4 linked regions of the Homo sapiens genome follow. The protein of the gene in region 1 interacts with the protein of each later gene in a biochemical or structural test. Each region holds a gene or a part of one and is shown on either strand. Other genes may lie near its edges. The genes, in order: ERBB2, BLK, ABL2 and PTPN11.

Region 1 (7,688 bases):
TTCTGTTTGTTTTCAGTCCTCTGACCCCAAGCTGGCTGGTGAAGTAGGTAGAGGGAGGAGACTTTGGTGCATGCATACACACACACACACACACACACACACACACACACACACACACACACACACACACGTCTCCTGTGCCCCCCAGTCTCCATGGCTGGTCAATGATTGACTGGCATTTCACAGGCCGCTGGTTGCAGCCCCAGCCTGTTGACTTAGAGGTCACCCTCGGAAGCTAGAGCCCTGTCCTGCCTCTTCAGTGTCAGTGGTCACTCCACTGCCCACAGGCTGGGGTCTTGGGCAAAACACACGCATCTGCCCTGATCTGAGTTTGCTGCCCTCTGTCCCGCAGTCAGCCCCACTCTGTTCCCACTCCCTCTCCCCAGCCCCCTAGCTAGACCCCTCTCACCAGCACCCCTTTCCCTTCCCTGAGGGTCCCCCTCGCTGTCTTTGTCCCTCAGACATCCTCTTTCCTGGGCTCTCCTGCCAGGCCCTGCTGGAGGGACAGTTAAGGAGGAAATCGAATCAGCAGCGCCCACCCCTGCCCCCCTTCCTCTCCTCTTGTCAGACACCAGACGAGGTTTTTTCCTCTGGCTTCCCAGCTCTGAATGGGCTCATTCTTTTTCAGAGGCTCGGCCCCTCTCGAGCCTCCTCCCCAGGGCGTGAGTTCTGACCCCAGCTCCTCCCCCCATCCCCACTCCAGCCCCCTCTCCAGCTTGCTCCACCCTCTCTACCGCCCACCGGGACTGGGCATTGTCTGCCAGTCCGGGTTTCTTCCTGGGATTTGGGATGCAGAGAGGATGGGTTTGCTTGGGCGGGGGGGTGGAGAGTGAAGGGGGGAAGCAGGATCTTTGTAGAGGGAGGGACCTACAGTTACCTGGACTTCTTTCCTCTGTCTCCCCTCTTGGTACCCTTGACTGGGGCTCTTGAGGGTAATGGGTGAAGCCAAATCTGCCATGGCTCAGTTCCCAGCTCAGCTCTGTGACCTTGGGAAAGTTCCTTTAGCTCGTGGAATCTCAAGGCTCAAGGTTCCTCTTCTGCAAAATGGGGAATGATAACACCTGCCTCCTCTGGAGTCTTGGGGACTCAGTGTTCTGAGGAACGTGGCTGTAGGTCAGAGTGGCACAGAGTAGGGTCCAATGAAGCATGGCGTCCACAGTAGCTTTCCTGACTGGACTAACCTTTCCGGACACAACAGCAGGGCAGGGGTGGGGCCTGGGGAGAAAGGACACCTCTAACCCTGATCCTAACATCCCGATGGCCTCTAAGGCTGCCTGCACACTCATCCAGGTGCAAGCCCTCCAAGGTGTGGTGTGATGAACCAGTGACTCCTGGAGCCAGGTCAGCGCATCCTCTTCCCGCAGGGCTGTAAGCTGCAGGACTGAGAGGCAGGTTGACCAGGTCCTGGGCTGGATGATGGGGTGAGAGTAAGGGGTCAGTTTTGATACATGCCCAACTTTTCTCTCTAGCCCTAAGACATCCTGGGCAAATTGCTTACCTCAGTTCCCCTGATCCTCACCCTAACCCTAACACCAGCTCAAGAGAAAATAGGGATATTGATGGCCATCCAGAAGGGCTGCTGTGTTCCATACACAGCAATATTTCTCGAATGTTTGTGACAGCGGTCCAAGGAATAAGTTAATTTTACATTATCACTCTGGATACCTGTACAAAACTCCACCTTATCCTTACTATATGAATGTGCTAGGGTTGTTTTTTTGTTTTGTTTTTTTTTTTTTTTTTTGAGACAGAGTTTCGCTCTTGTTGCCCAGGCTGGAGTACAATGGCGCGATCTTGGCTCACCGCAACCTCCGCTTCCCAGGTTCAAGCGATTCACCTGCCTCAGCCTTCCCGAGTAGCTGGGATTACAGGCATGCGCCACCATGCCCGGCTAATTTTGTGTTTTTAGTAGAGACAGGGTTTCTCCATGTTGGTCAGGCTGGTACCAAACTCCCGACCTCAGGTGATCCACCTGCCTTGGCCTCCCAAAGTGCTGCAATTACAGGCATGAGCCACCGCACCCAGCCGTGCTAGGGTCTTTTTCTGTTCAATTCCTTTCTCTCTCTTGCTCTCTTTCTTTCTTTCAATGGAGTCTTACTCTGTCACCCAGGCTGGAGTGCAGTGGCAAGATCTCAGCTCACTGCAACCTCTGCCCTCTGAGTTCAAGCAATTCTCCTGCCTCAGCCTCCCGAGTAGCTGGGATTACAGGTGCCTGCCACCACACCTAGTTAATTTTTGTACTTTTAGTAGAGATGGGGTTTTGTCATGTTGGCCAGGCTGGTCTCGAACTCCTGACCTCGTGATCTGCCTGTCTTGGCCTCCCAAAGTGCTGGGATTACAGGCATGAGCCGCCATACTCGGCCAACTTTGTATTACTTTCTTAAAGAGAGTTTCCCAAATTATATAAGCTTCAGGCCCCACAAAACCTAGATCTGCCCCAGTATAACTAAATCTGGGACCATTTATTGAGCAATTATTATGTGCCAAGTATTGCGCTGAGTGCTTCCAGAGCATTATCTCCTTTAACCCCAGCATAGTATGTCAGATGCTGTTTTACAGATGAGCCAACTGAGACCAGAGATGCTCAGTCACTTGCCCAAGGTGACATGACTGATATGGAATAGAGTCAAGATTTTTTTTTTTTTTTTTGACACGGAGTCTCACTCTGTCTCCCAGGCTGGAGTGCAGAGGCGCAATCTCAGCTCACTGCAAGCTCTGCCTCCCAGGTTCACGCCATTCTCCTGCCTCAGCCTCCTGAGTAGCTGGGACTACAGGCACCCGCCACCACACCTGGCTAATTTTTTGTATTTTTAGCAGAGACAGGGTTTCACCGTGTTAGCCAGGATGGTCTCGATCTCCTGACCTCGTGATCTGCCTGCCTCGGCCTCCCAAAGTGCTGGAATTACAGGTGTGAGCCACCGCGACTGGCCAGATTCAAGATTTGAACCCAGGTCCTCTTGGTCCCAGAGGCCCCTGTTTCTCAACTCCCTAGGATGGCATAGCAACCTGTCCCACAAGAGGTGCCTGCTTTAAGTGTGCTCAGCACATGGAAGCAAGTTTAGAAATGCAAGTGTATACCTGTAAAGAGGTGTGGGAGATGGGGGGGAGGGAAGAGAGAAAGAGATGCTGGTGTCCTTCATTCTCCAGTCCCTGATAGGTGCCTTTGATCCCTTCTTGACCAGTATAGCTGCATTCTTGGCTGGGGCATTCCAACTAGAACTGCCAAATTTAGCACATAAAAATAAGGAGGCCCAGTTAAATTTGAATTTCAGATAAACAATGAATAATTTGTTAGTATAAATATGTCCCATGCAATATCTTGTTGAAATTAAAAAAAAAAAAAAAAGTCTTCCTTCCATCCCCACCCCTACCACTAGGCCTAAGGAATAGGGTCAGGGGCTCCAAATAGAATGTGGTTGAGAAGTGGAATTAAGCAGGCTAATAGAAGGCAAGGGGCAAAGAAGAAACCTTGAATGCATTGGGTGCTGGGTGCCTCCTTAAATAAGCAAGAAGGGTGCATTTTGAAGAATTGAGATAGAAGTCTTTTTGGGCTGGGTGCAGTTGCTCGTGGTTGTAATTCCAGCACTTTGGGAGGCTGAGGCGGGAGGATCACCTGAGGTTGGGAGTTCAAGACCAGCCTCACCAACGTGGAGAAACCCTGTCTTTACTAAAAATACAAAAAATTAGCTGGTCATGGTGGCACATGCCTGTAATCCCAGCTGCTCGGGAGGCTGAGGCAGGAGAATCACTTGAACCAGGGAGGCAGAGGTTGTGGTGAGCAGAGATCGCGCCATTGCTCTCCAGCCTGGGCAACAAGAGCAAAAGTTCGTTTAAAAAAAAAAAAAAGTCCTTTCGATGTGACTGTCTCCTCCCAAATTTGTAGACCCTCTTAAGATCATGCTTTTCAGATACTTCAAAGATTCCAGAAGATATGCCCCGGGGGTCCTGGAAGCCACAAGGTAAACACAACACATCCCCCTCCTTGACTATCAATTTTACTAGAGGATGTGGTGGGAAAACCATTATTTGATATTAAAACAAATAGGCTTGGGATGGAGTAGGATGCAAGCTCCCCAGGAAAGTTTAAGATAAAACCTGAGACTTAAAAGGGTGTTAAGAGTGGCAGCCTAGGGAATTTATCCCGGACTCCGGGGGAGGGGGCAGAGTCACCAGCCTCTGCATTTAGGGATTCTCCGAGGAAAAGTGTGAGAACGGCTGCAGGCAACCCAGGCGTCCCGGCGCTAGGAGGGACGCACCCAGGCCTGCGCGAAGAGAGGGAGAAAGTGAAGCTGGGAGTTGCCACTCCCAGACTTGTTGGAATGCAGTTGGAGGGGGCGAGCTGGGAGCGCGCTTGCTCCCAATCACAGGAGAAGGAGGAGGTGGAGGAGGAGGGCTGCTTGAGGAAGTATAAGAATGAAGTTGTGAAGCTGAGATTCCCCTCCATTGGGACCGGAGAAACCAGGGGAGCCCCCCGGGCAGCCGCGCGCCCCTTCCCACGGGGCCCTTTACTGCGCCGCGCGCCCGGCCCCCACCCCTCGCAGCACCCCGCGCCCCGCGCCCTCCCAGCCGGGTCCAGCCGGAGCCATGGGGCCGGAGCCGCAGTGAGCACCATGGAGCTGGCGGCCTTGTGCCGCTGGGGGCTCCTCCTCGCCCTCTTGCCCCCCGGAGCCGCGAGCACCCAAGGTGGGTCTGGTGTGGGGAGGGGACGGAGCAGCGGCGGGACCCTGCCCTGTGGATGCCCCGCCGAGGTCCCGCGGCCGGCGGGGCCAGAGGGGCCCGGACGAGCTCTCCTATCCCGAAGTTGTGGACAGTCGAGACGCTCAGGGCAGCCGGGCCCTGGGGCCCTCGGGCGGGAGGGGGCAGTTACACGGCAGCGGCTCGAGATGGCCCATCCAAGAGACTGGCGCTTTCCAGGCTCCGAGGGGCTCCGGGAACTTGTCAAAGAAGTTCTCTGAAATTGTTCAGAAAGTTTTCCCGCAAAGGGTGTATTGCGTAGAGCGCGCGCGCGCGTTTCCCCCCTTCTTGAGCCCCCTCAAGCTTTCTCAAAGCCTTTCCAGTTGGCAGCCTCCGCCTCCGGACTGGCCTGGGCTGGATTCCTTGGGGGGGTCCTCTGCCCTGCCCCTCCTCCAGCCCCTCCCCGCTCCCCTTCAGACGATTTTGGTTTGGTTGCTCCTGCTTCTGGCGGGGTCGGGTGTGTGTGTGTGTGGTGGAGTGGAGGGTGGCATAGCAACCTGTCCCAACCAGAGCCGGGGAGGAAAGGGTGGCCCGGAGGGTGGCCTCTTGCTGGGGTCTGGGTTGGGGGCGGGGGAGACGTTTGCTTTGAACAGATTCTTGGGGCCAGCTTAGGGACTGTGCTCTGTGACTTTTGGAGCGCGTGGACCATGGAGGGGTGGGGGTGGGTTTCTTGGGGTGTAAAGTGGGAGAGTTCCCAGAGAAGGAAGCTAAGAAATAAGGCCAGATGGGAGCCTAGGGAGGGCTGCGTTGTTCTGCTGCCTTTTCCTTGGTGCTGTGCGTGGGGAAGGGTGAGTGGGGGCAGTGTGTATCCTGACCCATCTGTCCACCTGTGTGCATTAATCATAAAAGCTAACATATAGCCTGGGCCAGGTATACTCTGCCAGGAACTGTTTGTGGTGTTTTGCATGCATTCTCCTTTAATCCTAGAACACCCCTATAGTGGAAGTTCTGCCAGCATTCTGGACTGAGTAGCAGTCCAGAGGTTGAGTAGCAGCTAGTAAGTGGTGGGGTCAAGATGGGACCCCAGGCAGTGCGACCCCCAACCATGCATTCGAAATCGCTATATGGATGAGTGCACCTGGAGCAATGAGGGACACTGCTCCCTGAGTCACTGGGCTGCAGGGGAGACAAAATGAAAGTGTTCTGGGAGTCGTGGGTGGTCTCCATAGGTCAGAGGGTCTGGGGAGGGAGTGGGTGTCATCGTGGCTGTGTGTTGCCCGAGGGGCCCTCTGTGAGTGAGTGCATGGCCGTGTTATCTCTGCAGGTCTACGCCAGGGTGTTCCTCAGTTGTGTGGTCTTTGTATTTGTGTGTCTGGGCTTTGTGTTGCCAAACAGCAGTCTCTCTGCTGACTTGGGGACACAGGCTGAACTCTGTCCTCTGCAGGAACTCCCTTAAGGTGCTGGGCCAGATCTGCCATAAACAGAGGGAGGTAGCCTTCTATGGCCACGCCTTCTTGCTGAGGAAGAAGGTTCCTCTCTTCCAGGGAGTACATCCTTGCCCTCCCTGTTTCCCAGACAAGCATCTTCACCTCTCATCTTCTGATGAGAAGGGTGAGGCCATACTGAGCTGTCAGGCTGAGCTGCTGCCCTTCCTCACCTTGGGCTGGGAGTTGATCAGGGAATGGCAGTTGCTGCAGAGCTGGATTTGAGGGCTGGGTTCTCTGGATGGGGCCTCCTCATGTCCTCACCCCTCAACCTGCACTATTGATTGTGTTGTGCAGGAGTTAGTTAAAAAGTCATTGCACAGCCTGGGCAACAAGGCAAAACTCTGTACAAAAAATACAAAAATTAGTTGGATGTGATTACACGTGCCTGTAGTCCCAGCTACTCCGGAGGCTGAGGCAGGAGGATCACCTGAGCCCAGGAAGTTGAGGCTTGCAGTGAGCTGTGATTGCAAATGCTCTCCAGCCTGGGTGACAGTGTGAGACTCCGTTTCAGAAAAAAAGTATACCACCCAGCTGCCTCCAGCACCCAGATTTTACCCAAGGGGTGAGGTCTGGGGCAGGAATGTGGGGGAAGGGGAGGCCTAGGGGGAGCCCCAGAGGGGTCAGGATTTTTCTGAAATCCTTTCTTAGAGGTATGGGTTTTACAAATTGCAGCAAATACATCCTTTTAATCTTGCAGAACTCCTTCATATTTTAATTCCAGTATGATTCTTCCAACAGCCTCCTCTCTTTACTATACTTGGGGAAAGTACTCATTTTATTTGTCAAGAAAAAAACAATTGAAAAGATAGGGATCAAATGTAAAAAGAAAAAATACGTGGCATTCCAAAGTCAAACACAAAGCATGTTTAATTTTCTCGTGGTTTGGGATTACCCATATTCCTGCTGTATGAACCTGTCTTGTCTTAACTTTTAAGAAATGTACGGTGTACTTCCTATATGCTAGGTTTTTATCCATGCTTTCATTTAATCTCTGTGACAGTCCTGTGAAGTAGGTGCACAGATGAGAAAATGGAAGTTCAGAGAAATGAAGCAACTTATCCAAGGCTCCCAGCTACCCAGTAATGTCCAGGGAATTTTTGGACTCTGAAGAGGAGGCATTAAGAGGTGGTTAGAGTCTTATTCCAGCCAACAATAATGGGTTGAACAAAGCCTTAGGGGCAGGCAGGTGGCCAGATGGGAGGAGAAGCGCTCCTCTTGTTCAGGCGAATGACCTTTCCATCCACTTCTCTAGGCTGTAGAAAGTGGAGCTGAGCTGGGGGCCCTGAGGTTCCCTCTTGACTTCAGAGTCCTCTCCCTTCCTGTCCAGCCAATGCCTGTCTTCCTTTTGGGCCCTACCAGCATGACAGGGGGCTGCGGGCAGGAGGGGACAGAGGCCACGTTGACACACAGGGCTGTGGGTGAGAGAGACAGCTGAAGTGTCAGCGTGAGGGGCCAGTGTGGGGCTGCGGCTGGGAGGGCTGGGGTGGGGCCCAGGGTAGTTGTGCCTGTCCTTGGGTGATGGAATGA
Region 2 (7,408 bases), on another chromosome or scaffold:
AGCAGTCTCAACCCCCAGGCCCCACCCACGCAGCAGGGACTGAAATAACTCAAGTGTGTGTTTTCTACCCAAGGTTGTCTTCAACCACCTTACTCCTCCACCGCCCGATGAACACCTGGATGAAGGTAAGAAGGGTGGTTTGGGAAGCTGAGGCTCCACAGCCCTCTCCCCTAGGTGGCAGCTTTGTGGAGTTGGAAAAAGGTTGAGTCAGGAGCAGCTTGAGGGCTGGAGAAGAGAAAACGGGGAAGCTGAGAGAGGCCCCGGCTCTGTGCCTCTTGGGGCGTCTCTTCAGGAACCAAGAACAAGTTTCTTCAGTATGCCTGAGCCTGGGTGGGACTTTTAAAACATGAAAGACTTTACAAACTGTAAACAAGAACAAAAACAAGAGTCCCAGGGAAGACACACAGCATCATCAAACCCAAGTTTTAAAATATGCTAACTCTCAAACGCAAAGGGCTGGGCCAGTGGCTCCAGGCCCTTGCCTCCAGCCCCTGTCCGCTCTATGTGGAGGGCACCTTCTTGTTTCCCGCTCCCAGTCACTTCGAGAGTCCCGCTGCTGACCACCTAACCACCCACGCCCCTACCTGGTCCCCAGACTCCACTTGGTTTTTTTTGAGACAGAGTCTCGCTCTTGTCACCCAGGCTGCAGTGCAGTGACCCAACCTCAGCTCACTGCAACCTCCACCTCCCGGGTTCAAGAGATTCTCCTGCCTCAGCCTCCCAAGTAGCTGGGATTACAGGTGCACACAACCACACCGGGCTAATTTTTATGTTTTTACTAGTGAGGGGGTTTCACCATGTTGGCCAGATTGGTCTTAAACTCCTGACCTCAGGTGATCTGCCCGCCTCAGCCTCTCAAAGTGCTGGGATTACAGGCGTGAGCCACTGTGCGTGGCCCCTAGACTCCACTTCTGCTCTGGTGGGCTGGCCTGCTGGGTACTGTAGGGAATGAGCTCAGCCTTTCTGGGCCAGAGGCTCCACCCCTGGGGACTCCCAAGAGGGTGGCCTCCTTCAAAGTGACTTCCCGCAGCCTCCTCATCATCCATGTCCACACAGCATGGGGAAGGGATGCCTCGGCCAGCCGGGCCCCACCCATTAACCTGCTCATATGATGTGTACTGGGCATTCAGCACACAGAGCCCAGCTCTGTCCCAGGAATGGCGAAGGGGTGACAACAGGTAGATGCGACCCCTTCCCTGGAAAAGCTCAGAATCTGTCACACTTGTGAGCAGAACCTGAATCTTAAAACTTCAGGGAACCACTGTCACCCATTCTGACCCTCGCTTTCCTGCTGAGAAGAGGTGACCAGCCCGAGGTCACAACACTCAGCTCAGTGACAGAGCGGAGCCACCCCACCCGGGGAAGCTAAGTGCTCTCCAGGTGACCTTCATCAGGTGGGTCCTGTGGCTCCCAGAGCTGTGCAGAGAGCCTGCGTCACAGCAGGGCTCACTTGAAGATGGTGCTCCAAGCTCCTGAGCCCTCTTCCTGCCTTCCATCCAGGGCCCGCCAGCAAGGTGGGGGGCCCGGCAGGGTCACTGGCAGCCATAGACAGTGTGGCTGGGGCTCTGGGCACAGACAGTGGAGAGGCCAGGGCTCCAGCTGCCACGTGGCAAGACCACCCCTACTGGGGATAGAGGCAGGCGGGGCAGAGGAGGAAAAGGATAAGAGGAGGCTTATGGGCCTCCGAGGGCAGGTGTAGAATAAGAAGATGAGGGCTCCCAGCACTATGTCCGAATGTGGGCCTGAGGCCACCAGCAGCCCGGCAGTGGCTGCCTCCCTGTGGCTGACCTCTGGCCATCAGCTTCCTCACACACGCCTTGTCCAGGTCATAGGGCTTCTTAGTGGGTCCACAACGGAGGACAGGATGGGCTCTGGGGGGCAGCCCATCCCTGGTGGGGTCACAGGGCTGGGGGTGGGGGCCTGTGCTGGGTGAGAACATCATTTCCATCGTGGGCAAGCAGAAGCCTGTCCTCCTTGGTAGCCAGGCTCACCCCAGCCCCACCTTCCCGCTTGTGGGCCTGAGTGGTGGTCATCTCTCCCTTGTTCATTTTAGACAAGCATTTCGTGGTGGCTCTGTATGACTACACCGCTATGAATGATCGGGACCTGCAGATGCTGAAGGGGGAGAAGCTACAGGTCCTGAAGGGGTGAGGTTCCAGGACACCATCCCCTGTCCCTGCAGGACCCCCCTCCCCCACATCTCTCCTTTCTCCACCCACCACATCCTCCATGGCTGACCCTGGAAGTCTTCTCCATCGCCCTGCCCCCAGCCCTGGCCCCAGCATTTTCTTGAACTTGGCCCTTTTGTCTTCCTCTCCAAAATCTTTCCGGTGAAGTAATTTCCATTCACAACCTCCTGCTCATCCTTCAAAGTCCACGTTCCATGCCACCGCCTCCATGCAGCCCTCCTGACTCTTTTGGGCATGTGGACCTTGTCCTTTATGCAGGCTGGTCTGGCTGTTCCGTGAAAGCCTTGCATTTAAGCCAGTTGTGTCCATATTTGTCTCCTTTTCAAGACAGGAGCCCACACTGATGACACACACCAATCCCGCTTTAGCTCATTTCCCATGTCCTTCTCAGAAACTCCTTCTAGGTCAGCTCTCTCTCAGTGGCCAGGCTTGTCCTGTGGAGCTCTGAGGGTCTGATTTGGTTCTTGAAGTTCTCCAAAGGCCCTGAGCCAAGCTCACGAAGGTCCTGACTGCTGATTCTATACAGTCCACGCCAACCGTGTTTTTCTCAAGCCTGTCCCCAGTCCCTCACCAAGCTCTGAACACGTCCCATTCATCAAGAGGAAGGCTGCTGGCTGGATCCTTGTGCCCTCTTGGCTGGTCAGGCTGTGTAGATAAGCTCTTCCCCCTAGAACTTGCCCGGATAGCCACTGTACCACTGAGCAGTGGGCACAAGCCCCTTCCTGCCTGCCGTACTCTCTACCCCTGCGGATTCTCTGCCCTCCAGGGAGAGATGACTTTGAGGAGGCCTGAGAGCTGCCCAGTGACGGGCCTACAGGGGCCATGATCTCATCTCTGTTTCCCCTGCTCCCATTAGAACTGGAGACTGGTGGCTGGCCAGGTCACTCGTCACAGGAAGAGAAGGCTATGTGCCCAGTAACTTTGTGGCCCGAGTGGAGAGCCTGGAAATGGAAAGGTAGGTGGGCACGGGAACCCCCCTCGAGCCAAGATGCAGTCACTGTTTCTGCTCCCTGGGCTGTTAGGCAGGGCAGGGCCAGAGTGGGACTGACCAGGGAGCCTGCAGGCACTAGCAAAGAGGGGACAGGAAATGAGCTCTGCTGGGAAAGGCCTCTCTGCTGGCTCCAGACGACATTCAGACTGCTGTGTGACACTGAGCAAGCCGCTCTTCCCAGCTAAACAAGAGCGGTCCTTCTCCTGGCTCCCCTGGATGGAACCGGCCCCAGTGTCTGATGGCCTCGAAGGCTACCAGGGAGGCACTATGACCAGCATCCCCTCCCCTACAGCCTCCATGGGCAGGACTCAGGGCTCAGCCCTCGGGGGCTCCCAGGAGGGTGGCGTTGTTCAGAACTGATTAATACTCCCAATCTTCTAATCCCCCAGCCCCCATCTTCTCCCATGTCCCCATGGCACTGGGAATTTCGGACTCGGCCAGCCAGAGCCCCCACGAATCTGCTCACAGGGACTAGCTCTGCCTGAGGACTGAGGCCCAGCAACGAGTCTTCTCTGGACACTGTGGGCCCCGCTTCTTTCCCTGGAACAGTGTGGGGAACCGTGGGGCTGTCCTGCACAGAACAACCCCATACCGAAGGGGACATACTGGGGTCCCTGCTCAGAGAGTCTCGGCAGTTTGCCTAATTCAGATCTCAGACTGCAAGGAGGAGGCACGTGCCTGTGATACGCAGCTGTGCTTTGGAGAGAGTGATCAGGGGCATTTTTCCAAAGCAAAATTAACAAAGGTCAACCAACTAGTGTTCTTGTTTCGTTCTAGGAAAACAGTGAGTCCAGGGCTGACAGGAAGCGGAACTGGAAGGGCAGCGGGGCAGAGGGCACTGACTCCATCACGGTGTGAGGAGCAGCAGCTCAGGGCCGACTGGGACCAGAAATGCTAGATTTTTATTTCTTGGGGACAGGCAGTGCAGGAGGGAGGCTGTGTGGGAATACTCCGAGGAGCAGGGTCGCTCTGAGTTTCACCTGTTCCTGCCGTTTTCCAGGTGGTTCTTTAGATCACAGGGTCGGAAGGAGGCTGAGAGGCAGCTTCTTGCTCCAATCAACAAGGCCGGCTCCTTTCTTATCAGAGAGAGTGAAACCAACAAAGGTAGGCTTGGTGGCTTTGCCTGCCTTCCTTGCCCTGCTCCTCCCGGGAAGGCGCCTCCAGAGGCCTGGCCCTGGAGTGAGAGGGGAAGGGGTGACTGCCAGGAGAACCAGCAGCTTCCGGGCTTGTGTCCCTCCCAATTCAGGCCCTGCCCGGGAGTTGACATGGGGGCTGTCCACACAGTCCTCCCTGTCCCGGCTGGAAACCACCTGGGCACAGGAAGCCGGGTGGACAGGGGTGGTCCCACGCCAGACTGGCCCTGCTGCCCAGTCAGCAGGAACACCGAGGCCAGTGGGGGCCAGGGAAGGGGGAACCCTGAGCCCTTAACCACCAGCCTCTTTGGAATCAAGGATTAGGGGGAGCTCAAAGAATCCTTCAAGATCATCTCAGCCAGAGGCTGCAGGTAGCATATGTTAGGAAGTGGCCTGTGCCGTGATGTAAGAGAAGAGGGTGGTAATTGAGGGGAGCCCATGCCAGTCTAGACACTCATGAGTTCAAATCCACTGACTGAGCAAAACAGCTGCCATCACCCTCAGGGGTTTTCTCTCTTTCTCTGTCATTTGGCTTTCTTTCCTTCTTAATTTTTTTGGTGTAAAATATAAAACACATATAAAGCTTGCATGAAGTATGAATGTGTAATTCTAAATCATATAGGGTAATAATAAACAAATCCCTGTGTAATGACAGCCAAGAGAAAGAGCATCCCAGACCACCAGGAGCCCCCTCACTCCCCCACTTGGGCTCCTTCCTGATTCAACCCCCACCCTCAAGAGCTACCTGCTGTCCTGACTTGGATGGAAATCCTTCCTTGCTCTTCTCTGTGGTTTCGCCACCATGTCTTGTCTGTTTTTTCAGCTTGATGTAGATAGAATCACTGTTTTTGTTTCTGTGTGTCTTGCTTCTGTCACTCAGCAGTGTTTGTGGGATTCTATGTTAGTTTCCTGGGCTGCCGTAACAAAGTGGCACAGACTGGGTGGCTTCCACCACAGAAGCTTATTATCTCACAGCTCTGGAGGCTGGAAGTCCACGACCAAAGTGTCAGCAGCGTTGGCTCCTCCCGGGAGCTCTCTCCTTGGCTTGCCGATGGCCGTCTTCTCTGTGTCCTCACGTGGCCGTCCCTCCATGCATGTCTGTGTCCTAATCTCTTCTTGTAAGGACACCTGTCAATTTGGATTAGGGCCCACCCATATGACCTCATTTTAACTTAATCACCCCTTTAAAGGCTCTGTCTCCACATATAGCCACATTCTCAGGACCGAGGGTTAGGACTTTAACATATGAATTGGGAGCGCACATGATTCAACCAGTAACAGATTCATTCATGTGGTTGAGGATGGTGAGCCTGTTCATGTTCATTGCTATACAGAATCCCGGGTGTGACCATTCCAGAGTCAAGTTAGCCATTCTCATGTTGTGGGCATTGAGTTGTTTCCAGTTTGGGGCTGTTAATGCATGTGTTGCACCGAACCCTATTATGGTCCCTGGTGCTCACTGGCCACTAGCTTTTCGTCTGTAAGATACTAATCCACTTGACAGATGAGGAAAGGGAGTCCCTGAAACAGGAAGTGACTTGCTGGGGGCCAACAGTAAGCATCAGAGCCCAAAGCACCAGTGACCACATCATCTAAGAGGCTGAGAGGCTTCCCAAGCTCTACAACGTGGCAAGCTAGGGTGACCCAGGGGCTTCCCAGGCAGTATGAAGAATGCTTTGCTCATCAGGAAGCTGTCCACAGGGACCAGGTACAGCCTTGTAGCCAATTTTAACTGGAGAGGAGATGGTGACAGTGACATCAGAGGAGGAAAGGGAGAGAGAGTGTCTGGAATATGAGTCTGGTTCCCTGTGGTTGGGGCGATGAGAATGGACAGAGTTGTCACCTGGTGGGAGCACCCTTGGGCTGTCCATTGGTTCCATCTGTGGCTCAAGAACAGCAGCCAGAGTGGAAACCCAGAGTATGAAAAGCTGTCATAGCACCCTGTGATTCTCTGGGGACATCATGAGGCCTTGGTGCCCCACAAAGGGGCAGGACCAGGTTGGGGAGCAGGAAGGGTGCATTGGAAAGCTGGGGTGCTCTGTGCAGGATTTCTTGGAATATGCCAATGAATGCATATACATACATATACATACACATAGATATATGCATTTTATATTTATATTCATATTGGATATTGTCACTATTTCATTTTTGTGGCAGAGCACCTCTGTACAAGAAATAATTTGGGAATCACTGGAGATGACATAAGTGTTTTATTGTTGTTCCAGGACATTTCAAACATACACAGAAGTAGAGAAAATAGTTTAGTGGAACCCCTGGTACCCAACAGCCAGCTTCAACAATTATCAACTGAGCCAGTCTTGTTTCATCTGTATCTCCCGCTCCACCCCTGTTCTTTCGAAGTAAATCCCAAACATCATGTCATGTCACCCTGGAAATGATATTTCAACCATTGCCTATTGCTAAGGTGAAAGCCTCCCCACCCCCTGCCCAATCTGGTGTGGAGGAAGAAGGGGTTCTCTATGAGTCTGGCATCTTTTCCTGTCCATGTCCACCCCAGGAAGCCAGTCCAAGCTGGGAATAGGCCATATGGGACCAGGGCTGCAGGACTGTTCAACCATCATCACCACCACACGCACATACACATGCACACATGAACACACATGCACATATGCACAAATGCACACATATACACACATGTGCATACACAGGCATGTGTGCACACATACACATGCAAACACATACACATGTCCACGCATGCACATATACACACACACGCACACATATACATGTGCACATATGCACAGATGCAATGAACACGTGTGCAACACATGTACACACCTTACACGTACATATGCACACACACACACAACTCCAAAGCAAGACCCCTCTGCTTCTCCGAGCCACAGCAGTGAATGCAAGACAGGGATGGAAGCAGGGGAGTGAGTTCTACCCTTCGTGGCCTCCGGGGTGTCCTTGAGCCTCTCAAGCCTCAGTTTACTGGTGTCTATGTGAGGATAGACTAGTTTCACAGCTCAAAGGCAGGCGGTCCTTCAGTGCTGAGAAATCTTCATCTCAGAGCCAGGCCCTGCCTGCCCAGGGCAGTCCAGACATACCACAGAGGCAGGGGATCC
Region 3 (8,376 bases), on another chromosome or scaffold:
CGAAATAGTCTCCTAATAATTTATAAGGTTTTTTAAATCAAAGAAATGTTGAATCATACACTCTTGGGGCTAAAAGGAACAAGAGGTCATTTAATCTGTCTCCCTACTTTCAAAGAGAATGACTAATTCTGTGCCAGCCAGATAGGAATCTTCTAACTCCTCCTCCTCCTCGTTATCTCATCCAAAAAGACTTTTAAAGTGTCAATCTGTAAATGGAACTGTATTTGGCACTCTATAGGTCTTTAAAGATTTAATACAACAATGCAGAGACAAATCACATAAACAAAGTCCAAAGAACTGTGTACATAAACAGTTTAAGAAAAATGCTGGCCAGGCTCTGGTGGCTCGCACCTGTAATCCCAGCACTGTGGGAGGCCAAGGCAGGTGGATTACGAGGTGAGGAGTTCAAGACCAGCCTGGCCAAGATGGTGAAACCTCATCTCTACTAAAAATACAAAAATTAGCCAGGTGTGGTGGTACACGCCTGTAATCTCAGCTACTCAGGAGGCTGAGGCAGAAGAATCGCTAGAACCTGGGAGGCGGAGGCTGCAGTGAGCCGAGATCATGCCACTGCACTACAGCCTGGGCAACAGAGTGAGATTCTGTCTCCAAAAAAAAAAAAAAGAAAGAAAAGAAAAAGGAAAATGCTATACGTAAAATTACAACAAAATTTTTTTCTCTCAATTTATCTACATAAACATTTTCAGCCCACGTAGATAAATATAGATAGATAAACATAACTATATAAACATGCATATATGCAAGAAAATAAAAGATTTGGGGAAACATGATAGCTTTCAAATATGTGAAAGATTTCATGTAGAATAAAGATTATATTTGTTCTGTGTAGCTACATGGTAGAATTAGAACTGGGGTGAAACAGGTGGAAGTTTCAGGGGAACATTTTTCAGTTTATCTTTAGGAAGAACTTTTTTTTTGAGACTGAGTCTGGCTCTGTCACCCAGGCTGGAGTGCAATGGTGTGATCTCAGCTCACTGTAAGCTCCGCCTCCTGGGTTCATGCCATTCTCCTGAATCAGCCTCCTGAGTAGCTGGGATTACAGGCGCCTGCCACCACGCCCGGCTAATTTTTTGTATTTTTGGTAGAGATGGGGTTTCACCATGTTAGCCAGGATGGTCTCGATCTCCTGACCTTGTGATCCGCCCACTTTGGCCTCCCAAAGTGCTGGGATTACAGGCGTGAGCCACTGCGCCTGGCCCAGGAAGTATGTTTTAATAATTAGAACCTTTTGAAAGAAATGGATACCCTCACTGGAATTACTGCAGAGAGGATTCCAGATTAGCCTACATGACCTCTAAGTTTCTTTCCAACTCTATGACACTTGAGTCATGTGTCAAAACAAAACAGCCGGGTGCGGTGGCTCACGCCTGTAATCCCAGCACTTTGGGAGGCCAAGGCAGATGGATCACAAGGTCAGGAGATCGAGACTATCCTGGCTAACACGGTGAAATCCCATCTCTTCTAAAAAACAAAAAATTAGCCGGGTGTAGTGGTGGTCGCCTGTAGTCCCAGCTACTCGGGAGGCTGAGGCAGGAGAATGGTGTGAACCCGGGAGGCGGAGCTTGCAGTGAGCCGAGATCGCGCCACTGCACTCCAGCCTGGGGGACAGAGCGAGACTCCATATCAAAAACAAAAAACAAAAAACAAAAAACCATATTTGAGGGATGTAGAGGAAGGTAAGCGAATTTTATAACGAAAGAATTATTACCAGTTGTGGTTAAGGCCTGTACTGAATAGAGTCCGAGGAAACTGTTAGGTCTGTATTAATAAGTCTGAGGTTCTCTTATCAAGGAGGCAGGATCTGAATAGAATACTGAAGAGGACAGTAGAATCCTGTAAGGGAGTCACTCGAGACTTATATTAGGGAGAATATAATTATTGCAAAACTCATAGCTAAAAGGGATACATCTCAGAAATAGGCTAATTGGATAAAGTATGTATGCCTGCCATAGGAAAGGTGGAGGTTGGAGGAACAGGAGATGGAAGAACATTAGGCAATTATAATCCAGTTATCCTGGAAAATAACTTCGAAACACTAGGTGAAACGTTTATTTTGTTTATTTATTTATTTATTTATTTATTTTTGAGACAGAGACTCCCTCTGTCACCTAGGCTGGGGTGCAGTGGCGCAATCTCCTGTCACTGCAACTTCCGCCTCCTGGGCTCAAGCAATTCGCCTGCCTCAGGTTCCCCAGTAGCTGGGATTACAGGCACGCGCCCCCACGATTGGCTAGTTTTTGCATTTTTAGTAGAGACGGGGTTTCACCATATTGGCCTGACTGGTCTTAAACTCCTGACCTCAAGTGATCCGCCCACCTTGGCCTCCCAAAGTGCTGGGATTACAAACATGAGCCACTGTGCCCGGCCCATTAGGTGAAAATTTTAGACTTAAGACTTTGTACGTAATGAATGAGAGGGAGAGTGTGGTCAAAGCAATGAGAGAAGCAGTTTCTTTGAGTGAGTTGCTTGGTGCTAAAGGTGAGGAATCTCTAGGAAGAAAGGGCTAGTAGCGGGAGAAACCAGCGCAGAGATGCCTAAGCTAACACTGTGTCTTACATAACGCTGTTTATATAGATGAAGGGAAGAGGTAGATATGAGAGATACTGTAAAACTGTAAAAAGTATGGCAATAGCCTAGAAATGCAGACTGGTGAAGTCAGGGATTGGTGAGGCATTACTCACAAGCTCCTTCCTTCTGGAGAGAGTGGTGTTGCTCCTGTGATAAGGATGATGAGGATGAAGAGTATCTGTGTCTTCAGCACGCCTTACTGCTGTTGGTGATGTGTCTGATCTTTTATGCTGGCCTCTGGCCATTGCTCAAATTTATATATATATATATATATAAAATTTGAAAAAGTTAGGCTTGTAAAACCTAAAACCATTATGTTTTTTGTATTAATAGTATATGCATATATGACACCAGTTATATGCCAAATACTGTTTTAAGTACTATACATATATATTGACTAATTTAATTTTCACAATATTCCTATAAGGTAGATACTATTTGTTATCATCATCAGTTTACAGATAATGTACTGAGACACAAAAAGGTTATGTACTTTGCCCAGATCAAATAGTCCATAAGTATCAGGGCCAAGTTATGAACCCAAGCAGTCTGGCTTCAGAGCCCCTGCCCTTAGCCACTGCACTCTACTGCAGGCTGAGCAGCCCTTATCAGAAATGTTCGGACCACAAGTGTTTCAGATTTGGGAATATTTACACACACATAATGAGATATCTTGGGCATGCGACCCAAGTCTAAACACAAAATTCATTTATGTTTCATATACACCTTTATACACATAGCTTGAATGCAATTTAATACAATATTTTAAAAATTTTGTGCATGAAACAAAGTTTATGTTAAGTACTTACGTGAAATGTTCCACCTCTGGCATCATATTGGTGCTCAAAAAATTTCGAATTTTGCAGCATTTTGGATTTTCAGATTTGAGATGTTCAACCCATATATTCATCTATCTTTATATAGTATGCATGAATTAGCAGAGAAACCAAACCATTATCCCCAAATTAAAATTTTCTCCCATAATAAAAATCAAACAGTAAACCAAATTCCGGCTCTGTGACATCTTTATCCCTTTCGAATGAATTTTTTTCAGTAGTTGCAAACACTGGGAATTAGAAGAAAAGACAGGTATTTTAAACACAGGGAAACTTTAATCCAAATGGAAAGTTCATATTTTATCCAGTGTTTACACATAGTGTTTCCGTTCCCATTTTGGAGTTAATTTCAGTTATTTCTGGCTACACCCTAGATGGCAATGGAATAATTTCATAGTGCTTTTACAACAGGCAATATCTACGTCAGTGGATGGTTCATCTAAGGTCAACCTGGTTCAGGAAAGATATGCAAAGGAGAGCTTCATCCACCTCTTCTCCCAACCCTACATTTCCAGTGGTTGTTTTGTTCCTTCTTTGCAGTGGCTCCCGTCCTGTCTAATTTAAGCAAAATTTCAGTGTAGTACCTCCATTAACTGATACTTTTTATAAAGCAAATTGGGAAGCCAAAAGAATAACAGGAGAATGATCAAGATTTGAGAATTAAAAAAAATTGAATTAAGATGCAAGTAAACACAGTGGGAGAGGGGGATGGCGAGTCAATTGTATATAGTATATGTGTATGTATAAAACGCTTCTTTTCTGCCTCATTCACTCTCTTTAGACTGCATAAGCTAAAATGAGTAAGTTCTGACTCAGAAACAGGGTCAAAGATATATATTTTTTCTCCTTTGTCATCAAAAGAAGACCTGACCACGTGCACAGTGTATAAAGGATGCCAGTGGGAAGATTAACTTTACTGTCAGGCATTGTAAGGAAACAGAAACTCACATATGGTGAGATGGTAAAGGAGTTCAAGAGGAATTCATGGTAATATAATATGAGGAATGGGGCTACAATTGCGTCCCCAATGAGACTATAGAAGGCACACAATCCAGGCCAGTGCGATTTAACATCATGAAATAATCTCCAAAAATTAAAATCAAATAAGGTAGCATTTTACTCTCTTCTTGTAAATTTTATACCATTTTAATTTTTACTGGAGGCCTGCTGCTGACAAGGGTGTTTAAAAGAGATCCCCCTGGGTATTTTAGAGCTCCTTAACTGGATGGCAAGGACCAAATAAATGCCTTGTGCTTTTCTGCCCCACCTGTGCCTGCACCTGAGCTGCGCACGCGGTGGCACTGAGCCCTCGACTCACTCATTTGACAGGTGGAGGTGGGATGGGGAAGGCCGGAGACCGACCAACCCCAAAGGCGGTAGCGTGTGGAGCCGAACGCGGGAGGGGGTCGGCTGAGGCGGATTGAGGGGGGGGACGCCGAGGTGCGGCGACAGGACGCGGAGGACGAAAGACCTCAAGCAGCGGTGGCCGGCAAATGAGGTGGGCACTGGGGGACCCACCCTGCGAGGAGGCGGGGGCGGGGACGGGGGGCGCGGCGCGGCAGGGCGGGGCGGCAGCCGGGAAGCCCTCCTTCCCCGCGGCGGAGGTGACTGGCGGGCGGGGGGCGGGGGGCGGGGGGCGGGAGACGCTCTGTCCCACGCTTTCCCAGCGCTCGGTGGTTTAAAGATGGCGGCGGCGGTGGCGGCGGCGGCGGCGGCGGCGTTGGGGGCGCGGAGCCGCGACAGGAGGAGGGAAAAGCAGAATCTGTGAGTCGCCTGGAGGCAGCGCGGCGGCTGCCGTGAGGAGGCCGGGTGCGGAGCCGCCGGTGGCCCAGCCACTCAGGGCCAGGGCCTGGGCTGGGAGGGAGAGACCGGAGCAGCGCCAGGAGCCCGAGGCCGGAGCCGAGGAGGAATGTGACCAGGGGTCGGCGGGGGCGCGGGAGTACGCGAGAGCAGGGATGGGGCAGCAGGTGGGCCGCGTCGGGGAAGCTCCGGGGCTCCAGCAGCCTCAGCCCCGCGGGATCCGGGGCAGCAGTGCAGCCAGGCCCTCCGGCCGCAGGCGGGACCCGGCGGGGCGCACCACAGAGACCGGCTTCAATATCTTCACCCAGCATGGTGAGTGTGTCTGGGAGCCGGCATGAGAGCGTGGGGGAGGCCGGGGGTGGGGTCGGGGCGGGGTGGGTGGCGGACGGGCTGCCCGAGGGGTCGGAGGGTGGAAGGTGCCTGAGAGTGGGGGCGGAATCCGCTGCCATCTGGTCCAGTCCTGGGAGGCGAGTCACACCCCTCCCCCCTCGCGTCTCTAGCCTGGCTGGCAGATCCCGGGGGCGGAGAAGGAAAGAGAAGTGGGTTTGGGGACCCTGGATGGTCTGTCCTCTACTCTGGGACGGGACTATGCGGCTGCAGAAAGAAAGTGAATGGCAGCTTCAGGAGAGGGAAGGATGAAGGGCAGTATTAGCTCAGTCCCAGAGGTGGGAGCATAAACCCGTCGTTAGTGAAGGGGAAATGGGTTGTATCCTAAGGGATTGGGAAATGGGAACTGAATTTCAGGAGATTGTGGAGTACAAGGTATGTGTTTACGTTAGGTGATGAGCAGTGTCAGGATAGTGAACTGTGGACAGTGTCAAATGCTTTTCTGTAGGGAAGATGAAGTTAGCATCATCTTATCACTTTTGACATGCTTTTGTGGTTTATTTTGTTTTGTATTTCGTTTTTACTAGAAATGAAAGGCTTTGCCAAAGCCTCTGTACTATGCTTCAGAGTAGGACACACAATTCTGAGATTGCTGGCAAGGGCTAGAGGTTGGTGGGCATGGTTAGGACGTCAGTCAGGATATGAACAAGTTTTCCTTTGTAGTGTGTGCGTGTGCCCATATACATACATACATGTATGTATGCTCCCTGTAGTCTGAAACCTATTATTTTGATCTCATTGTCAATGTATTTTTAGAATAGTTGTCTCCAAACTTTTTTTGTCTTGTTTTTTTGTTTTGTTTTTGTTTTTGTTTTTTTTGAGACAGAGTCTCGCTTTGGTCCCCATGATGGAGTGCAATGGCGGGATGTCGGCTCACTGCAATCTCTGCCTCCCGGGTTCAAGTGATTCTCCTGCCTCAGCCTCCCGAGTAGCTGGAACTGCAGGTGTGCACCACCACGCCCGGCTAATTTTTGTATTTTTGGTGGTGGTGGGATTTTGTCATATACTCCTGACATCAGGTAATCTGCCTGCCTTGGCCTCTCAAAGTGCTGGGATTACGGGTGTGAGCCACCACCGTTCCTGGCCCAAACTCTTTTTTTTTTTTTTTTTTTTTTGGAGACGGAGTCTCATTCTGTCGCCCAGGCTGGAGTGCAGTGGCGTGATCTTGGCTCACTGCAACCTCTGCCTCCCAGGTTCAAGCGATTCTCCTGCCTCAGCCTCGGAGTAGCTGGGATTACAGGCGCCCGCCACCACACCCGGCTAATTTTTTGTGTTTTTAGTAGGGTGGGGTTTCTCTATGTTGGCCAGGCTGGTCTCGAACGCCTGACCTCATGATCCACCCGCCACAGCCTCCCAAAGTGCTGGGATTACAGGCGTGAGGCACTGCGCCTGGCCACATGTCTCCTATTGAAGATGTGCTTGAGTGTCTCTTTCGGGTATATGAACACTTTATGAAGGTGATATATGAGCTAATCTTTATTAAAATCACTTCCTAAAACACAGGATGGAAGAATGGATTAGTAGTTTACAGGGAAGAAATCATCCAAGTAAGCTTCACTTTGTGGGAAGTGTTACTATGCATTAAACTTGGCCTAGTAGGCAATGGTGATCCTCTTGCTTTACTATCTTATTCGGTATGTAAGATTTTCCAAGAAAGAGGAAGTCATGAAGAATGGAATAGGAAGACATTTTGAGGATTTGGATCTATGGAGAGGGAGAACAATTTGGGTAGAAGAAACAACTTGAACGGGAACATGGGAATAGATATAATTTGTTGATGGGCTAGTGAGGAGACAGCTGTCAGGAATGAAGCATCATTATGAGTTGGAAGAAAAAGATCATAGAGCAAAAATTGGAAGAGTCAAGTTCTGGTTCTGGCTCCACCTGCCTGGGTGATTTTAGTCACCATCTTTGGGTTTCTTTATCTGTAAAGTGAGGAGGTTGGACTGGATGATCTCTAAGATACTTTCTGGTTTTAAGATTTTATGATTCTAATTAAGAAGCAGTAGAAAGAAAATTTTGATAGGCTGGATGGGACTGGGTTATGGAAAATCTGGCAGAGAAGTTTATATCCATTTACCTGATTGGCTAGTCTTTACCTGAAAGACTGGCCTTGAGTGGTGGCAGTGGAAATGGGAGGAGTAATTTCAAGGGTCCTTTCATTCATTCAACAAACAAGGGTTTTTTTTGAGCACCTGTTATGTACTGGATTGTGGGAATGTTGCTGTGAACATAACAGAGTCCCTGCCCTTTGGAACTTAAAGGACTTTATGATTTGATAGAGGATGAAAGAAGAGAGATCACTTTGGAGTATTTGTTAAGGGCATGAACTCTGGACCCATTTTTCCTGGATTTGAAACCTTGCTTGGCTGCTTATGAGCTTTGTGACCTGGGACAAGTTATTTAACTTTTTGTGTCTTGGACTCTTCATTTGTAAAGTGGTGATAATAATAGTACCTAGTATTAAATGAATAGTGGCTGGGCACATAGTATGAGCTAAATGTGTGTAGCTGCTGCCATTACTAATACTACTGTTATTATTAAAAACAGGAGTAATTCGGCCAGGTGCGGTGGCTCACGCCTGTAATCCCAGCACTGTGGGAGGCCGAGGTGGGCAGATCATGAGGTCAGGAGTTCGAGACCAGCCTGAGCAACATGGTGAAACCTCGTCTGTACTAAAAATAGAAAAATTAGCTGGGCATGGTGGCACGCGCCTGTAGTCCTAGCTACTCAGGAGGCTGAGACAGGAGAATCGCTTGAACCC
Region 4 (7,408 bases), on another chromosome or scaffold:
AAATGGGAGAAAGGGCTGGGCGTGGTGGCTCACGCCTGTAATCCCAGCATATTGGGAGGCTGAGGCAAGAGGATCGTGTTAGCTCAGGAGTTCTGGGCTGCATTGAGCTGTGATTGTGCCACTGCACTCCAGCCTTGGCAACAGAGTGCCCAGTTAAAAATAAAAATAAAATAAAATAAAAAAATTAAAAAAAAAAGAAGAAGAAAAAAGAGAAAAGTGTCCTTTTACATCCCTTTTAAAAATGTCACTTAAGGCTGGGCAAAGTGGCTCATGCCTGTAATCCCTGCACTTTGGGAGGCTGAAGTGGGTGGATTACTTGAGGTCAGGAGTACAAGACCAGCCTGGCCAACATGGCGAAACTCCTTCTCTACTAAAATTAGCTGGATGTGGTACATGCCTGTAGTCCCAGCTACTCGGGAGTCGAGTCTGAGGCCCAAGAATTGCTTGAATCGGGGAGGCGTAGGTTGCAGTGAGCTGTGATCAGGTCACTGTGCACCAGCCTGGATGACAGAGTGAGACTCTGTCTCAAAAAAAAAAGTCACTTAGCTTAGATTGTCTCTACATATATAGGAAGAAGATGTAGGAATGAATGGTGCTGCTACAATTACGTCATCTGGATAGACCCAGAAACATGATACTTTTTGGTTTTCTGTAGCCTTGGTGCCATTGTTGATCTTTATTAATTATCATTATCCTCAAAATAGCCATAATGTGCTGAGTCTCTTCCTATTTGCTGGGCAGAGGCTGAGTATTTCAGCGAGCTCACTGAGTCCTTAAAATTGCATTATGATAGAGAGAAAGAGATTATTATTTGCATTTTGCAAAATGAAGAAATTGAGGTTTAGAGATACCCAAGGGCCACGTGAGTGTGAGTGCCTGGAATTGGAGCCTAAATCTAGTCATCTGATAGCAAAGCCTGTTTTCTTATCTGCTTTGCATTAAATATAAGTTTAAAATAGAACAATACTGGCCAGGCTGGGTGGCTCACGCCTGTAATCCCAGCACTTTGGGAGGTCGAGGCAGGCAGATCACCTGAGGTCAGGAGTTTGCAACCAGCCTGGCCAATATGGCGAAAGAAACCCCATCGCTACTAAAAATACAAAAATTAGCCAGGCATGGTGATGTGTGCCTGTAATCCCAGCTACTTGGGAGGCTGAGGCAGGAGAATGGCTTGAACCCGGGAGGCAGAGGTTGCAGTGAGCCAAGATCACGCCACTGCACTCCAGCCTGGGCAACAGAGTAAGACTCTGTCTTGGAAAAAAAAAAAAAAAAGAATGATACTATAGTCTGTGTTTATATGGTGGGGAAGGTTGAGTATCAAAAAAATAACAAAGAGGAATGAATGTCTTAAGTGAATGCCTGTTTCCCCATCTGCTTCCTCTTCTGCTGGGAGGAGAGACCTGGATCCCTAGAGGTTTCAGTTGCCTCCAGAGCTGAGTGCCACAGGGATGCAGGGGAATAGGGATGTTACCTGTCGCTGGTAATTCAGAGAGATGATTCAGGGTATAGTTACCTGAAAGAACAAATTGCCATGCCAGACGTCTTGGTTCTTATGACAGAGGCAAAGAGTTGCCTCCAGGATTGCCCAAAAGGAGACGAGTTCTGGGAACCTCACGAAGAGGACCTTTCAGTGGAACCTGGGGAGATTCTCTTCCTCTCCATTGGATTTAGGAAAGCTTAGAACCGGGTGATTCCTCAACCTCTTGATTTATTTAATTCTTTTCTGGTTTTTCTTGGCTCTACTCCAGGGGAATACGGAGAGAACGGTCTGGCAATACCACTTTCGGACCTGGCCGGACCACGGCGTGCCCAGCGACCCTGGGGGCGTGCTGGACTTCCTGGAGGAGGTGCACCATAAGCAGGAGAGCATCATGGATGCAGGGCCGGTCGTGGTGCACTGCAGGTGACAGCTCCTGCTGCCCCTCTAGGCCACAGCCTGTCCCTGTCTCCTAGCGCCCAGGGCTTGCTTTTACCTACCCACTCCTAGCTCTTTAACTGTAGGAAGAATTTAATATCTGTTTGAGGCATAGAGCAACTGCATTGAGGGACATTTTGATCCCAAGGCATATTTCTCCTAGACCCTACAGCACTGCCATTGGCCATGGCCATGGCAACATGCTCAGTTAAAACAGCAAAGACTAAGTCAGCATTATCTCTGAGTCCACCAGAAGTTGTGCATTAAACAACTTCATCCTGGCTCTGCAGTTTCTCCTTATTCTTCATGATGTTTGCTTTGTAGCTGTTGACTGCTTTGTAGGTATTGAGGTGGTGGGGGTGTGGTGGAAATAGGCCTGACTCTTGAGGATCCCTTAAGTCATTTTTGCTTGGTTCTCTTTTTCCTTCTTTTCTTCTACTCTTCTATGATTCATCTCTTTGATTGTGATTCTGTTCTCTCTCTCTCTCTCTCTTTTTTTTTTTTCGTTTTTGAGACAGAGTCTTGTTTTGTTGCCCAGGCTAGAGTGCAGTGGTGCCATCTTGGCTCACTGCAACCTCCGCCTCCCGGGTTCAGGCCATTCTCCTGCCTCAGCCTCCCAAGTAGCTGGGATTACAGGCATCTGACACTACGCCCGGCTAATTTTTGTATTTTAATAGAGACAAGGTTTTGTCATGTTGGCCAGGCTGGTCTCGAACCCTTGACCTCAGGTGATCCACCTGCCTTGTCCTTCCAAAGTGCTGGGATTACAGGTATGAGCTACCATGCCCGGCCCATTCTGTTCTCTTCTACCATAAATATATTTCTCCCCTAACACTATATTTGTTTGCTTCACAAGATTCCAGCTGCTTTTCCACCAAGGCCTTTGATGGAAGCTGTGCTGTGACCTCTGTAATGAGTCTGTGGGCTGCTGATTCTCCAGTTTGGGCTTCATGATTATACTGGGGAATATTGGGTTTCCTAAATCTCATTCATTTCTTGGGCAAGTAGATATATGTGAAAGTGTTTATTTGTCCAGTTGTTAAAGAAGCTACCATTTATTGAGCCAGCCTCTGAGCACAATGTTTTTTGTTTTGTTTTGTTTTTAATTTTTAAAATTATTTACTTCTTCTATTTCAATAACTTTATTATTATTATTTTTTGAGACAGAGTCTCACTCTGTCACCCAGGCTAGAGTGCAATTGAGCGATCTTAGCTCACTGCAACCTCTGCTTTCTGGGTTCAAGCAATTCTCATGTCTCAGCCTCCCGAGTAGCTGGGATTACTGGTACGTGACAACATGCCTGGCTAATTTTTGTGTTTTTAGTAGAGACGAGGTTTTGCTATGTTGGCCAGGCTGGTCTGGAACTCCTGGCCCCAAGTGATCCTCCTGCCTCGGCCTCCCAAAGTGCTGGTATTATAGGTGAGAGCCACTGCGCCCGGCCCTCTTTCAGTAATTTTGATGTATTTTTTTGTATATGATTCCTGTTTCATTCTGTCCAACCAGCACTCTGTATGGTATGTGCTGTTGTCCCCATTTCACAGATGCAGAAATTAAGGGTCAGAGAGGTTAAGGGACTTACCTCAGGCACGTTGTACTGGAGAAGCTGAACTCCAAGAGCAGGTTTGGGCTGACTCCAAAGCCCTATGCTTTTTGCCAACATATTTTCAAACATAAATAGACAATTTTATAAATAGCTCCAAAGAGTAGACATTGTTTCTGTTGATATTAATGGCTTGGTTTTGAGTCTGAAACCCCCATGAATGATTCTGTTGTCCCTGCTTTTTGTCCTTCTGCCCGCAGTGCTGGAATTGGCCGGACAGGGACGTTCATTGTGATTGATATTCTTATTGACATCATCAGAGAGAAAGGTGGGTCATCTGGTGGGCAAGAAGCGACAGTTTCTGTTTTTAGTTTATGGAAGGAAAGTGCTCACGAAAACAGTCTGGGGAAGAGAGGTTGAATGGGAAAATTCTTTCACAAAAATCTGGGCTGAAGACTTCAGTGTGTCTGCCTGAGAACAGAAGTGACACTATTTGAGCTTTTGGCATAAAATGAAGTCTAGGAGCTGCAGAACCCACTGCCATGGCCTTTTGTTGCATACACAGTGGTGGTCTCTATCCAGCCACCTGACCTTGTTTACAGTATGGGGTGATTTGTTGGCAAGTGAGGGAATCCTGACTTCTGCCACTTCGTTATTTATGTAGTCTTCTGGGATCATTGGTATTGGTCAGAAGTTCAACACTGTAGCCATTGCAACATGCTCAGTTAAAACAGCAAAGACTAAATTAGCATTGTCTCTGAGTCCACTAAAAGTTGTGCATTAAACAACTTCATCCTGGCTCTGCAGTTTCTCTTTATTCTTCATGATGTTTCCTTCGTAGGTGTTGACTGCGATATTGACGTTCCCAAAACCATCCAGATGGTGCGGTCTCAGAGGTCAGGGATGGTCCAGACAGAAGCACAGTACCGATTTATCTATATGGCGGTCCAGCATTATATTGAAACACTACAGCGCAGGATTGAAGAAGAGCAGGTACCAGCCTGAGGGCTGGCATGCGGATTCTCATTCTCTTGCTAGGCCTCTTGGATACGCTCTCCTTTTGAGCAGGAGGACAGGCTCTGATAGACAACTGTTTGATTTCGGAATGGGAAACAAACTCCCAACTAAAAGGGCCTCTGGAAACTGTCAATTATTCTCCACTTCTCAGCTCTGATTTTTCACTGCAGAGGAGCTTAGGGAAGGGCACCATCCTATCAGCCTGGCCTGCCAGATTGAAGAACTGCCATGCAGAAAGGTTCTGATGTTCTCAGGCTCATGTGGCAAGCGTAAAACTCAAAGCCTTGAAGTTTCTAGCCTGTTCCAGCCTTGATCCAGGCCATGTTTATCCTGATTCCATCCTTTAAAACGAATGCCTCACTCTTAATAGCGCACGGCAGTTTGAACCACTAATTTGGTCGAGTTGGAAACAGTGAAATTTCAATTTTAATAAGCTGTGCATAATGAAGAGGAATGTGGAATTGGAGCCTTTCCATCTGAAGCTATTCATAACAGGCACAAAGCTGAGTTAATTAGGAATATGCTGAGATGAAGGAAATGAGGAGAGCTGCTCTTTTGGGGGCTGTGCTTCTCTCCCCAACCCCTCAACCCCATTGCCATGCTGCAGATGGGGTGGTGTCTAAACATCAGTGGCGAGTGCCTGCATTACTCTGCTCGTTGCCTTCCAGAGAACTCAGCTTCTCCAAATGCTGAGCTCTTTTCAGAATGGGACCTGCCACCAGTATTTGAAAGATTTCTAGCCTAGCAGAACAGCAGCCACGTTATCAAAGTTTGGTTGGCCAAAGGAAGGTACTTGCTAATTAGTTTAGTAGGTTTTCAGTCCGCACAGACATACGGGATTGTTTTATTGTACATAGACATCTTCAGAAACAGTGTATGTATAGAAATGTAAGGTCAAAATTTGAACCTCAGTGCTTTAAATCTGAATTTGTATTAACTGATATGAAATATTTAGACGGTTACTTTATTTTATATCTGTCTTCCATTATACTTAATTTGGCTCAAGAATAGTTAGGCAAAAAGTTGCCCAAAGAGAAGGATCTCCTAGTAAATACAAAGAGAATGTAACATAGTTGCTACAAGTTGGAGCATGTTCAGGGATGTCTTTTTTTTTTTTTTTTTTTGAGAGAGAGGTCTCTCTCTGTTGCCCAGGCTGGAGTGCAGTGGTGTAATCATGGCTCACTGCAGCCTCAATCTCCCAGGCTTAAGCGATCCTCCCACCTCAGCCTCCCAAGTAGCTGGGACTATAGGCATGCGCCACCACACCTAGCTAATTTTCGCATTTTTTGTAGTGTCACAGTTTCGCCATGTTGCCCAGGCTAGTCTCGAATTCCTAGGCTCAAGCAGTGCTTCTGCCTCAGCCTCTCTGAGTAGTTAGGACTACAAATTTGTGGCTCCATGCCCGGCTAATTTTTTTATCTTTATTTTGTAGAGACAAGGTCTCACTGTGTTGCCCAGGCTAGTCTTGAACTCCTGGGCTCAAACAACCCTCCCACTTTGGGTTTCCAAAGTGCTGGGATTACAAGTGTGAGCCACTGAGCCCAGTGACCTCTGGGTTTTAAAAATGTGTAGGCTTCAATTATTTATTTTAAAAAATGAAATCCTGCAATATATAGTTTTCTGCGTTGTGTGGTTTGAATCAATCTGGGAACTGGCTTGCTGGCTGATTGTGGTAAAGTAAGAAGTACTTAATTTAGTAGAAAGTTTAAATGGCAGACATAACATTAAACCCAGCTGATTTATAAATGAAGCAAAAGAACAAAACTCATTCAGGATAATTGGTTATTCTAAAATACAGTCATTTCTAAAATTATGAAGTGTTCAGGACCTTTGGGAGTGAAAGAATTTGCTAAAGAAGGATCAGTGAAAAAAAGGAATGATGGGTGAAGAGCTGTGGAGAAGGAAGAGAAGAAACAGCACAAGGAAGGAAGAATATAAAATCAGATGTGGGAATCCAGGGGAAAGTGCAAACGAAGCAAGATTGAGAAAATTCTCAAGTTTTTATAAACAGTTCTCACACTCTGCCAGTTCCTTGGAGGTAGACTTTTTTGTTAACTTCCAACTACAGTAGTGAAAAAAAAAAAAAAACCCTCAAATTTGCAAAAGCAGTCTGTGGAATTTTCTTTACCCAGCTTTCCTGACTGTTAACTTTTTAGCACACTTAACTTTATCATTCGTTTATTCTCTCTGTTTAAAATTAAAAATGTAAATTTTAAAAAGTAAAATGTTTGTTGGTTACAAACATTTATACCCCTTTGTCTCTAAATATCATTTCATTTTAAAAAATGAATAATCTAAGCCTACACATTCTAAAATGTGTATATTTTCTAAAAATAAGGGCATTCTCTTACATAACCAATGTCACAATTATTTGATACAGTGATCAAAATCAGGAAACTAACATTGATATAACACTATTATCTAACCTACAGACCATCTTCAAATTTTGTCCTGCTAGTATCTTTTATGGGTCCAGGGTCACACAGTGCATTTGGCTATAATGTATCTTTTTTCTCTTTTTTTGAGACAGGGTCTCACTTTGTTGCCCAGGTTGGAGTGCAGTGGTGCAATTATGGCTCACGGCAGCCTTGACCTCCTTGGGCTCAGGTGATCCTCCCACCTCAGCCTCTCGAGTAGCTGGAGACCACAGGTGTGCACCACCATGCCTGGCTAAGTTTTGTATTTTTTGTAGAGATGGAGCTTCGCCGTGTTGCCCCGGCTGGCCTTGAACTCCTGGGCTCAAGTGACCCTCCCGCCTTGGCCTCCCAAAGTGCTGGGATTACAGGCGTGAGTCACCACACCTGGCCAGTTATTAGTATGTTTAGTCTCTTTAATCTGGAACAGTTTCTCAGTCATTCTTTATTTTTCATGACCTGGATGTTTTTGAAGAGTTTAGGCCAGCTATTTAGCAGAATGCCTTTCAGTTTGGATTTGT

The links.
Region 2: the proteins of ERBB2 (region 1) and BLK form a complex in vitro, tested with the Homo sapiens proteins (2 studies listed by BioGRID and IntAct, with this or other methods).
Region 3: the proteins of ERBB2 (region 1) and ABL2 form a complex in vitro, tested with the Homo sapiens proteins (3 studies listed by BioGRID and IntAct, with this or other methods).
Region 4: the proteins of ERBB2 (region 1) and PTPN11 form a complex in vitro, tested with the Homo sapiens proteins (2 studies listed by BioGRID and IntAct, with this or other methods).

The regions. Positions count from the first base shown.
Region 1 is NC_000017.11:39,695,629-39,703,316, forward strand, and holds the start of ERBB2 (receptor tyrosine-protein kinase erbB-2 isoform a precursor), read left to right. Parts: upstream 1-4,435; 5' UTR 4,436-4,610; coding exon 4,611-4,683; intron 4,684-7,161; exon of another isoform or gene 7,162-7,286; intron 7,287-7,688. UniProt on the Homo sapiens protein: Protein tyrosine kinase that is part of several cell surface receptor complexes, but that apparently needs a coreceptor for ligand binding. Essential component of a neuregulin-receptor complex, although neuregulins do not interact with it alone.
Region 2 is NC_000008.11:11,545,979-11,553,386, forward strand, and holds part of BLK (tyrosine-protein kinase Blk), read left to right. Parts: intron 1-73; coding exon 74-125; intron 126-2,053; coding exon 2,054-2,147; intron 2,148-3,045; coding exon 3,046-3,144; intron 3,145-4,180; coding exon 4,181-4,284; intron 4,285-6,507; exon of another isoform or gene 6,508-7,408. UniProt on the Homo sapiens protein: Non-receptor tyrosine kinase involved in B-lymphocyte development, differentiation and signaling. B-cell receptor (BCR) signaling requires a tight regulation of several protein tyrosine kinases and phosphatases, and associated coreceptors.
Region 3 is NC_000001.11:179,226,402-179,234,777, reverse strand, and holds the start of ABL2 (tyrosine-protein kinase ABL2), read left to right. Parts: upstream 1-5,100; 5' UTR 5,101-5,380; coding exon 5,381-5,537; intron 5,538-8,376. UniProt on the Homo sapiens protein: Non-receptor tyrosine-protein kinase that plays an ABL1-overlapping role in key processes linked to cell growth and survival such as cytoskeleton remodeling in response to extracellular stimuli, cell motility and adhesion and receptor endocytosis.
Region 4 is NC_000012.12:112,484,727-112,492,134, forward strand, and holds part of PTPN11 (tyrosine-protein phosphatase non-receptor type 11), read left to right. Parts: intron 1-1,736; coding exon of another isoform or gene 1,737-1,748; coding exon 1,749-1,903; coding exon of another isoform or gene 1,904-1,907; exon of another isoform or gene 1,908-2,197; intron 2,198-3,716; coding exon 3,717-3,784; intron 3,785-4,297; coding exon 4,298-4,449; intron 4,450-4,457; exon of another isoform or gene 4,458-5,262; intron 5,263-6,291; exon of another isoform or gene 6,292-6,698; intron 6,699-7,408. UniProt on the Homo sapiens protein: Acts downstream of various receptor and cytoplasmic protein tyrosine kinases to participate in the signal transduction from the cell surface to the nucleus. Positively regulates MAPK signal transduction pathway. Dephosphorylates GAB1, ARHGAP35 and EGFR.